Regions from separate parts of the Homo sapiens genome. Here region 2 is linked to region 1. Evidence: fine-mapped expression QTL. A gene starts in region 1. The other region holds a variant in brackets. All regions are shown on one strand. Distances are from middle to middle. Region 1 holds the start of LINC01257 (long intergenic non-protein coding RNA 1257). Region 2 overlaps LOC105370082 (a long non-coding RNA gene).

What was found. PIP is the estimated chance that this variant, and not a neighbour inherited with it, causes the effect.
Region 2: its variant is fine-mapped to the expression of LINC01257 in thyroid (GTEx, PIP above 0.99).

Annotation. Positions count from the first base shown.
Region 1 is chr12:131,162,645-131,168,013 of GRCh38, reverse strand. It overlaps LINC01257 (long intergenic non-protein coding RNA 1257), which reads right to left and starts at 3,003. Exons shown (of 5, transcript NR_026670.2): 1 at 2,784-3,003.
Region 2 is chr12:131,231,869-131,237,237 of GRCh38, reverse strand. It overlaps LOC105370082 (a long non-coding RNA gene), which reads left to right. Exons shown (of 4, transcript XR_945559.3): 4 at 1-5,369. Among named protein-coding and RNA genes, the nearest start is that of LINC02415, 63 kb to the left of the region's middle. RefSeq lists an enhancer at 1,928-2,537. The variant A/G (reference allele first, on the strand shown) is at 2,992.

The sequences.
Region 1 (5,369 bases):
TGGACATAGACTTATACCTAGGCTCAACATCATCATAAGAATTCAATGTGGGCTTTTCCCAGGAAGTCATCACCGCCACAGGCCACAGACAACGTTCTAAGATCTATGCCAGAGCTGGTACAGCTGGTGATCAGAAAAGCTGAGAGAAATTGCCCAACTACTCTATAAATAATGGTGTGTGATTCAGACTTGCCAGTGATAGAAAAAAAGAAATGACCCCCTCCCTGAGAACCTTTCAAAAATACCAGAAGATCATAGCAAGCAAAGAGCAGTTTCTTAACAAAATCAATCTTTCAATGTATCATTTCACAGTTAGGACACAAAAAGCACAAACACAACATTCTCAATAGAAAATAAAAACACTTCAGCAGATCACACACTTTCCAATGTGTTTCTTTGCCCCAGCATTTCTAGGAAGTCGTTCTGCTGATCCTCTGCCAAGTCTGCTAAGCAAATGGCAGCGTCAGCACTCTGCTAAGTGGGTAATTCGCTCTCAGGATTCCAGTTCATGGTGGTGGTTATTTGGGGCTGACTCACCCTGTTCTACCTTTCAGGATACTGGTGAGCACTGCCAGCGTTCTCTCCTGGGCAGCTGGACGCATCCTTCTCAGCACATTTGTTTCTATTCTCCATCCTAAGGTCAGCTCTCCCCACCCAATACCTTGCACATACACCCCTGGCCTCAAGTGGAGCTGCCTTCCAGTCTCTGCAAGCTGAAGGGCAGCTTTCCTTTACTTCCAGAACCATAACCACCTATCTTAGATTCCCACTACGGCCCCAACAAATCACCACAAACTTAGTGGCTTAGACAACACAAATATTTTCTTGCAGTTCTGTAAGTCAGAAGTCTGACGTGGACCTCACTGGACTAACATCAAGGTATCCACAGGCTGTGTTCCTTTTTGGAGACCCTAGGGGAGGATAATTTGCTGACACATTCAGGTTGTTGGCAGAATTCATTTCCTTGTAGTTGTAAGACTGAGACCCCTGTTTTCTCTCTGCCTATCGGCTCAGCCTTCCCAACTTCTAGGGGCCATGTGCATGCCTTGGCAGCTTTCTCTACCTTCCAAGCCAGCAACAGGGTGAGGCTCTCTCAAGCTTTGAATTTCTCCTCCTTCTGACTCATCTCTCTGACCCAGCTGGGAAAGTTATCCTATCTTAGGGACTCACATGATGACACTGGGCTCACCTGGACAACCCAGGATGCTCTCCCTATCTCAAGGCCAATACCTTTAGTCACATCTGCAAAGCCCTTTTTCCCATGTGAAGTAACATATTTATACATCCCACAGATTTAAGTATGGACATACTGGGGGGGCGTGATTCTGCTAACCACACCATCTCTGTTCTCCCCACTATTTCCACACACAGATGCTGTCCTGTGATATGTTGAACTGCTTGTCTGTCCATCTCATGTAACATGAAAGTCAAACTTTCTCAAGGTCAAAAACAGTATCACCATTTCCAAAGATCCATTCAGTGAATATGAGTTGATGCAAAGTTGGAATCTTCAGAACACCCTCGGGCACATGGCTACAGGAGAAATGGAGCGGGTGGGCTGGATGAGCTGGTGAGAGCATGCCCCCAGGAGGGAATGTCCACTGCTCAGCCATGGCTGCCATTTGAGAATGGGGCCTGAGGTAATCAGAGTCCTGACTGTTCAGGAAAATCAGAAACCTGGATTACAAACAAAACCTCTCAATTTTAAGCATCAGCCACTAATTCAAATGTTAACACTGATCATGTTAAGTAAACACCTGAGGATCTTGCCCAGCACGTGGTCCTCCAGCGTGACGTCTCTGCCCTGGGAGATTTCTTATTTACCAGGAGCCCAGTGCCTCCTTCACAGGCCTGCAGATTAAATCTGATCTTGGTGACCATCATTTTACCCCCTCCCTCAGAGGATCCGATCCTGGGGCAGAAGGCTTTCCCCTGCCTCCTCTCCAGCTTCACCTGCTGCCCTACCTTCCTCCATCTCCCATTTCCCCCACTTCCAGCAGTTCCCTTTCACCCCACTGTGTGCACTCTTTAAGCCTTGGCCCTGCTGGTTTCCACCCCTGGAATGTCCTCTCCCATTGCCAGCCTGGTGAATCTGCCTTCATGGAGAGCCCCCTCCTCTGTGAAGCCTTCCTCCATTTCTCCAGGGGACTCTGGGCATCTTCCTCTAAGCCAGTATCTTCCCCATAATGGGCTGCCACCGTGCATGATAGATGTTCATGGATTCAACCAAATGTTTACTTACCACCTACTATGTACTAACAGCCTCTCAATCCTGAAAACATGGCAGTGAGCAAGACACACATGGGCTCAGCCCTCATCAAGACAGTGATGCCAGCTATGAAGGGAACCAAATTGGGTGAAACGGTGGAGAGTAGGGTAGGCTTGAAAAAGGAGGTCCCAGAGGGGGTTTCTGGAGAGGTAACTCTCCCACTAGAATGATGGGAAAGAGTTGACACCCAACTGGCTGTGGGAAGAGCTTTCCAAGCAGAAGGAAAAGCAAGTGCAAAGGTCCTGAAGTAAAGAAAAAGGAAGATAATCACAGAGGCAGAGCAGGTTGGGGGTGGAGAAAGTCAAGCATATGACGCTGAGGAAATGAAGACAGAGGAGCGTGTAGGGCTTCACAGACCAAAGTGAGGGGGTTAACTGCTGATGTGGATTCTCCCCACAACCCCCACCTGCTGGGGGACTCATGAGTGCTGAAAGAGAGCACGCCCAAATCACTTGAAGGGTGGACCGCAGGGCTGTGGGGTTTGGGCCCTTTCTCCACCGTGGGACAGACTTACAGCACAGGCGAGTGCTCCCTGCATCTGGACACAGCTGTGGGGCTGTGGTCGCCCCATCTTAGGCCTTGTTTCTAGGAGACGTTCCCACCAGAGAGTGTCTCTCTTCATCTTCCCCAGGTGATTCAGGAGCTCCGGGTGTCATTAGGTTGCATTGCTCATTCCCAGATCGAGCGGAAATCCCAGCCTGGCGTCTCCCACCAGCGCTCACATGCGTATCTACAGCTCATACCTTGGGACGTCTGGGCGTGACGTCAGCTTCCGAGTTCACGAATCAGACAATTAGATTAAAAATTCAAATTCCACTTGGAACTCCCAGACCTCCGAAGCTCGGCGTGTTCTGCACTCAGTGGCCACAGAGCCCGGGTCCTGGCGCGGATGCGCTGGGGCTGAACTCCTACTCCTGACAGCGCCGTCCAGAGAGGTGCGGCCCGCGGCGGGGCTGGGGGAGCTGGGGACCCGCGGGCCCAGAGGAGGCGCAGGACGAGGGGGGCCGAGCCCCACCAGGACCGTCCCGGAGGCCTGAACGCAGTGTCTGGTGAGCCTGAGGAGGTCAAGACCCGGGCCGCGTCCCCGTCTCCTCGTCCCCAGTTCCCAGTGTGGGGCCTCAGGGCACAGACTCCACAGCTGCTGAGGGCCTCGCCCCCTCCTTCCGGGACCTCCCGAGTTTCACTCAGGAGCCCCCACACCCACAGCTAAGACGCTGGGACCGCTACAAGGACTCTTGGTCTATGAAGGGGCCTGTGGCCCAGGTGTGGTTGGAAGCCCCTTACCCTGGCTCTGTGATTGGTGCAGGGCTGGTCACGTGGCCCGAGCAAGTCCAATCGGAGTGAGCATCAGGATTTGTTCCCTGGCCAATGGGAAAGGTTGTTACACTTCCACAGGCTGTGCTCTGGCTTTGTGATTGGTGCAGAGCTGGCTACATGGCCGGAGCAAGTCCAATCAGAGTGTCAGGTGGCTGTGCCCTGGGCCTATGATTGGTACAGACCTGGTCACATGACTCTGCCAGTCCAATCAGAGTGCATGCCAGGACCTGCCCCAGGGCTGGCGGGAGAGCTACGGAGCTGAGAGGAAGCCAGGAAGCAGCTGCAGCCATCTTACTCCTTTGTAGGGGGAGCCTGCCAGGTAGAGGTCCCTGATTGGGGCATTAGCAGGGCCAAAGCCGCTGAAGGCCCAGATATGAGACAGAAAAAAAGATCACTGGAGCCCTGGATCCAGTCGAGCCTGCAGCCAGGTCTGTGCTGCAGCGTTTCCAGGGCCAGGTCCCCTCCCCGCTTTTATTTCCTTGAGCTCATTTGAGCGTTTCTTGGCTTTTGGGCTTCCTAGCCCAAGGAGTCCTCATCCACACAGAGCCGGATCAGAATCCGGAACCCCAGAACCTGGATCACTCCCCTTCCTTGCTGCGCGGTCCTGACCTGGGCCCGTGGCCTCAATTTCCCTGCTGTGAAAACCCGGAGGGCGCGGGCGTTGGGATCGCGAGGGGCCTCAAGGCAGCATGGGGGGGGGGCACCGGGCAGACCCCGCCTGGACGCCAGCCCCGAGCCCTCAGAGCCCGCTGTCCCCGCGTCTGCCCGTGCGGGACAGAGAAACAGGGTCAGGCCGGAGAAGGGCCGCGCCAGCCGGGCAGGAGTCCACAGAGGGGCCGCAGCACTTGCCACCCGGGCAGCAGCGGGGCTCCCCGAGCCAGGCCTCTGGACGACCCCTGGTCGGAGGGGGAGTGGCTCGGGCTCGCTTCCGAGGGTCCTGGCCAGCGGAAGGAGGGGCTCAGGGACGGGCGGGGAGATGCCGTCGCGGTCCCGGTCCTGGTCCCGGTCCCGGTGAGGACAGCGGCCGGCTCTTCCCGTGACCCGGAGGGCCCTGTCGGAAGCAGCTGGAGGACCCGGAGTTCCCCAGAGTTTCCTACCAGCCTTCGTCTCTACCCGCCCCTCGCGCCGCAGTAGAGGGAAGGGTGCGTTCCGCTGGCGGCAGCATATGAGTATCCATGAGCCCCCGTGCCTGGGTGACACTGGCAGTGTCCACATGTAGCACATAGGTAATAATCATGTCAGCAGCCTGCGTGTGTGACACCTATAAGTACAGGTGCAGGTGGCACAAACATGGGTGATGCAGATACACCCAGGCAGCGCCACACACAGCACCATGCAGGTCATACAAGGAAGGAATCCGCAGACTCCTCCCACGAGCAGCGGACAGACGGGAGCATGCGGGAATGGTTTAATACACAGAGCAGCAGGCCCAGGTAATAGGAGGTGGCACACACAGGTTGTTTACAGGCAAACGCACAGAAGTAGCCTGCAGCAGAACGCACACACACGACATATCAGGTAAAATACAAGACTCACGTGGCAACACAAATGACCACCAGCAAACAGATGACAGGCACAAGTGACACAAGATGCTGACACACTTAGGTAACATGAAGGCACCATGGACACAGGAAATACAGACAGTGCATGCCAGCAGCCTGCACGGTCATAACAACACACGCGAGCAGCCTGCACGGTTATAATAACACACGTGAGCAACCATTCACTCCCTGGGTGAGTGAATGTGTAGGTTGCATGTAGATGGCATGCAGTTAATATACAC
Region 2 (5,369 bases), 69 kb before region 1:
GCAACAAGGCTCAGGATTATACACGCAGGCAGTTTATGAGTGCCTCTTCCCATTCAGAATCCTCAAAAGTGTGTAATTCAAATTCAGTGACTTAACGGATGGTGAATAAATATAGACCTGGAACTCAGCGCCCAGTGGAAGCCTGCTAAGAACTGGAGAGATGCAAATGAAATTGTTTTGCTTTTCATCACCCGTTGTGACTTCTTTTTTTGTTTGTTTGTTTGTTTTAGACAGAGTCTCACTCTGTCACCCAGGCTGGAGTACAGTGGCCTGATCTTGGCTCACTGCAACCTCCACCTCCCGGGCTCAAGCGATTCTCCGGCCTCAGCCTCCTGAGTAGCTGGGATTTACAGGCATGTGCCACTGCGCCCGGCTAATTTTTGTATTTTTAGTAGAGACAGGGTTTCATCATGTTTCCCAGGCTGGTCTTGAACTCCTGACCTCAGGTGATCCATCCACCTCAACCTCCCAAAGTGCTGGGATTACAGGCGTGAGCCACCGTGCCCGGCCTCCTGTTGTGACTTCTGACATATGGTATCCTACACCTGACATGCTTGGCGAGGATTACTTCCTGAGGAAAACAGGTCTTCCATTTGGGTGTGAGCCCGGGGACACTTCAGGACCCTGTGACCCCTCAGCCTCCCAAGAGAGGAACTGAGCTTGGGGGCTGGGGGTGTCAGCAAAAACAAACATGCTGTTCTCGTGGGAAGCTTTGGTGGACCAAGCACAATCATCAGACCCATCTCCAGAACCATCCTTGAGGCTCATGTCTTCTTGCTGCTTTTCCACTGGAATTCAAACTTTTAAAGCACAGGAATAAATTGTGGACAGAGAATTCCTTTTTTATAAGTACTGAGAGCATAACAAGGCACATCTTCCGGAGATGTAACAGTGCGTAGCCGCAGCAGCTCTATGGGCAGAGAGCCCTCAGACCCTGCAGCAAAGGACACTGTGCTCTGCCTGGATTCCTCAGCACCTGGGTGAGCTGCCCGCCCTTGGTCTCCCCCCATAGTGGGCCTTACACCAGTGCCCATCCCTCTCCAGGCACAGACCTTGTGGGAGGGACGCCCGGACATCCCAGCTAGCATCGGTGTCGGGGACAGTCCTGGTGGTCCTCAGTGAGGAGCCCAGAGGGGCAGAAGGTCATGAGAGAGAAAGAGAAGAGCAGCAGGATGGGGTGGCGGATATGGGGTGCTGGGGACCGGGTGAATTCTCAGATCATCCACTGACACAGCCATGCATCACAGGGCCATGGATGCCTCCGTCCATGCTGCCATTTCCACTGGCCTTTCCCACAGGGGAGCCCGGGGGCCCGTGTGACCGTGAGAGGGGGTTGTGTCTGGTGGGTTGAGCTCAGAGCACGCTGGGGAAGCTGCACCCTCGTCTTCTTTCACCTGCAGCCAGGACATTTTCTGAGGCCTCTGAGGCTGCTGGCCAGGCCAGGGAGGTTTCTGCAGAGCAGGGCAGAGAGCGCCTGGCTCCGGTGAGAAAGGGGCTGTCAGGCCAGGCGCAGTGGCTTACACCTGTAATCCCAGCACTTTGGGAAGCCAAGACAGGTGGATCACCTGAGGTTGGGAGTTCCCGACCAGCCTGACCAACATGGAGAAACCCCCATCTCTACTAAAAATACAAAATTAGCCGGGTGTGGTGGTGTATGCCTATAATCCCAGCTACTCTGGAGGCTGAGGGAGAAGAATCGCTTGAACCTGGGAGGCAAAAGTTGCAGTGAGTCGAGATCACGCCATTGCACCCCAGCCTAGGCAACAAGAGTGAAAGTCCATCTCAAAAAAAAAAAAAAAAAAGAAAACACAAAAAGAAAGGAGCTGTCAGGCAGGTGGCCAGGCCAGGGAGGTTTCTGCAGAGCAGGGCAGAGAGCCCCTGGCTCGGGTGAGAAAGGGGCTGTCAGGCAGGTGGCCAGGCCAGGGAGGTTTCTGCAGAGCAGGGCAGAGAGCCCCTGGCTCGGGTGAGAAAGGGGCTGTCAGGCAGGTGGCCAGCAGCCCTGAGCCTGGAGATGGGGATTCAGGAGCCCACCTGCTGCTCGGCTCAGAGCTGAGAGGAGAAACAGCCCAGAGGAACAGCGGCCTCCCCCATCCCAGCTCACGCAGAAATGCATTGGAATGTCAGGAAATTGTGTGTATTTGATGTATTTTACCTGTTGCCTAGAGAGCCCACACAGTGACGCAGGTGCCTGTTTACATTGGCTGATTGCCCGGACTTTGGAAATGCAATTATCCCCCACCACCCCCTCAGCCACTTTCTCCAGCGGACTAGGAGGGGCTGAGTGGTGCAGCCTCTGTGAAATGCTTGGCCCAGGAGAAAGCAATTCCAACGGGGCTGTGACAGCTGAGGGGGAAGGTGTGGCTGCGCAGAGCCCATCAGGGCTTGTTACTGGAAGGAGAGGGAACAAATGCCAGGCAGGCAAAATGACCCAGGACCGGCGACCACAGGCCCCTGTGGCTTCAGCAAATGCAGCTGCTTCCATTTGGCTGCAGACAGAAGCTGGATGCACGTCTGTGACCAGAAATGGACCTGCCCCTTGGTGTCCATGACAACAGCCCCTCAAAAGCAGTTCTGAACTAATCCTACCTGGCCCAGGTGTGGCTGCGGTGAGACGTGCATGGCATGCGGGTGCCCCACGCTGGGACAATCCCTTTGTTGAATCACAGAAGATGAATTAAGACAACATGCTTGGAGGTGCCCTGGGGACACAGAGGAATTAAGGATGAAAATCGCCAAAGCCAGGCTGGAGAAATTAATTTCAGTTGTGAGCACACGGTCCAGGAGGACTTATTAAAGCTGAATGGAAATTAAATCCTGACATTCCAGGAGGGCACTAAAGCACCTAATGAGAAAGAGGGGACACACACAGCCAGGCAGCACTAACATGAGCTGCAGGTAACCAGGTGCAGGGCGGTGTGGCCTGGGTCCTAGACCGGTGGACAGCCATGCCGGACAACTTCTCCTGGCTGACTAAAGTCCCAGCCATGCCCA[A/G]TCTGTACCACCTGTCCTGACTCACGTCTCACCGCTTAACAAACCACCCAAAAAATGCTGTCACTTCAAACAAAATCAGTAATCCATCATTTCTCACAATTCTGTGGTCAGGATCTTGGGCAGGGCCCAGCTGGGTGGCTCTTCTGCTGTGGCGTTGCCTGGGTTCACTTCCTCAGTTGCATCCTGCTGGTGGCTCGGCTGAGCTGGAAGATTCTGGAAGGATTTTACATGCCTGCCAACATTGTTTTCAGGATGATTAAAAATAGCCTGTCTAATCCATCATCAAGGCCTCAACAGTTACCATGGAGACCACTTTATTACCAAGAGGAGAATTCAGGGGAAGCATCTGTCAAATGAGCGAAGGCTGTCAGGCGTTGACTTCTCCTCCATCTGAGAGATGGCTCTGATCCTCAGGGCTGGGCTGTCTTTTCATGAAGTGGGAGCGGCCACACCTTGGTGATGGATCAGGATCACCCTGCGCCTGAACCTGAGGCTTTAATTAAACTTCTCAAATCTCCACCCTGTGCCACCCTCTGCCCTTCACTCTCCTTGGGCTCAGCTGGAAGGAAGCAAGATTTGAGACACTGAAAAATACAGTGTTTGATTTGCTAATTCCCAAGAAAAGGGAGTTGAGAGAAATTTATGTTCAGGGCTTTAGGAAGCCTGGGTGTTGGCTCCGTCCTAATGCCTGAAACTCACTGCACCCCTGAGGGAGCAGCAGGTTTCCTCCTGCGAATGACTGCGATCTCTCAACTAAACTCCACCCAGGAAACCTGTGTTCACGTGAGGCAGGCGAGAGAATAATGGCTCAGAGACCCAGCAGAAGCCCCTGCTGACCTTGGGGTGTCCTCTAGCACCTGACAGAGGACACACCTGGAGGACCACGTGGCACTGCCGGCCCAGACTTAAAACATGGAATTAATCCCCAATAGGTAAAAAGTGGGAGATTTCCATGAATTCACCAGTTCACACATCATTTATTGCACCCTAGCTGAGCTGGGCACTGCTGTGGGTGCTGGGGATAGACGCTCGGGGAACAGAGACCCTGCCTGCGTGCAGACCCCCTTCGTGGGCCCACGTGCAAGCCGGATCCCTGAACGGATCCAACAGCCTGGGCAGCTGGCACGGGGCTCTCCTTGCTGCAGCATCTGTGGGTGAAGCCGCTGCTCCCTTTCCTGTGGGGACTCTCCGCGCCACAGTCCCCACCACGCCCTATCACTGCCACGCTGGGGCTGATGCCACTTACTGTTTGTCACCACATTGGGTGACGCTTCCTCAGAATGGACCAACAGGGAAAGGGAAGAGCTTTTGTTTTGTTTTGTTTTGTTTTTAATGCTTACCAAAAATAGGAAAACAGAAGACAGACCATGGGGACTGAGTGTTTCCAGAACCCCTGGACGAACATTTCCATACGGTTGTGGAAAATTCGCGGTTGAAAGTCCAAACTCCAAGAGCGGGTTGGCCTGGGCTCTCCCTCAGCCTCATCCTGGCTGGAGGATCAAGCAGCTTCCTGTGTCTCGGACCCTCAGGTTCCTCGTCTGTGAAGTGGGGATGAGAACAGCACCTGCCACTTCTGGCTCTTTTTTAAAACCAATTTTAATAGAGATGGGGCCTCACTATGTTGCCCAGGCTGGTCTCAAACTCCTGGGCTCAAGCAATCCACCCATCTCGGCCTCCCAAAGTGCTGGGATTACAGGGGTGAGCCACCGCATCCGGCCCCTTTTCTGGCTCTTACGAGGGTTGAGTGAGCCTGTACACCTGAAGAATATAGATTGTTAAGTTTCTGCCTCATCATTATCATTTTAACATGCAAATAAAATCCCATCCTGGCCCCCGGTGGTGTTTGATTTTTCAACCCCTGTGAGTGGGCATCAGACTCAGAGCTTTGGGCAGACGAGGCCTTAGCTAGTTGTGAATAACATCATTTTGTCTTCATTTCACGTTCAAGCCACCTTCTGCTTATGGTAAGTGAGAATGATTTTCTGCTTATGGTGGTGAAATATGTTTCCTCTTTAGAGGAATTTAGTGAAGTGAAAGTGAGATGATTTAAAGAAAAACGTGGAATAAGTAATGTGTATGGAACATGGAAGGTGGGAAGTGAAGACTGGAGTTTGAGGAGCCAAGAACGAGTCCAATTTCCTCATTTTATGAGTGAGGAAACTGAGGCCTGGAGAAGGGACAGGACTCACCCAGGGCCACAGAGTGAGGCTAAGGCAGAGGCAAGACCGGAATCCAGGTTGCTGTCCCCAGACTCAAAGTGTGTGGCTGGTCACTGCTGATGGCTCACCCACCAGGGACAGGAGGAGGAGGAGGTGAGGAGGAGGAGGAGGGGAGGAGGAGGAGGAAGAGCAAGAGGAAGAGGAGGAGGGGAGGAAGAG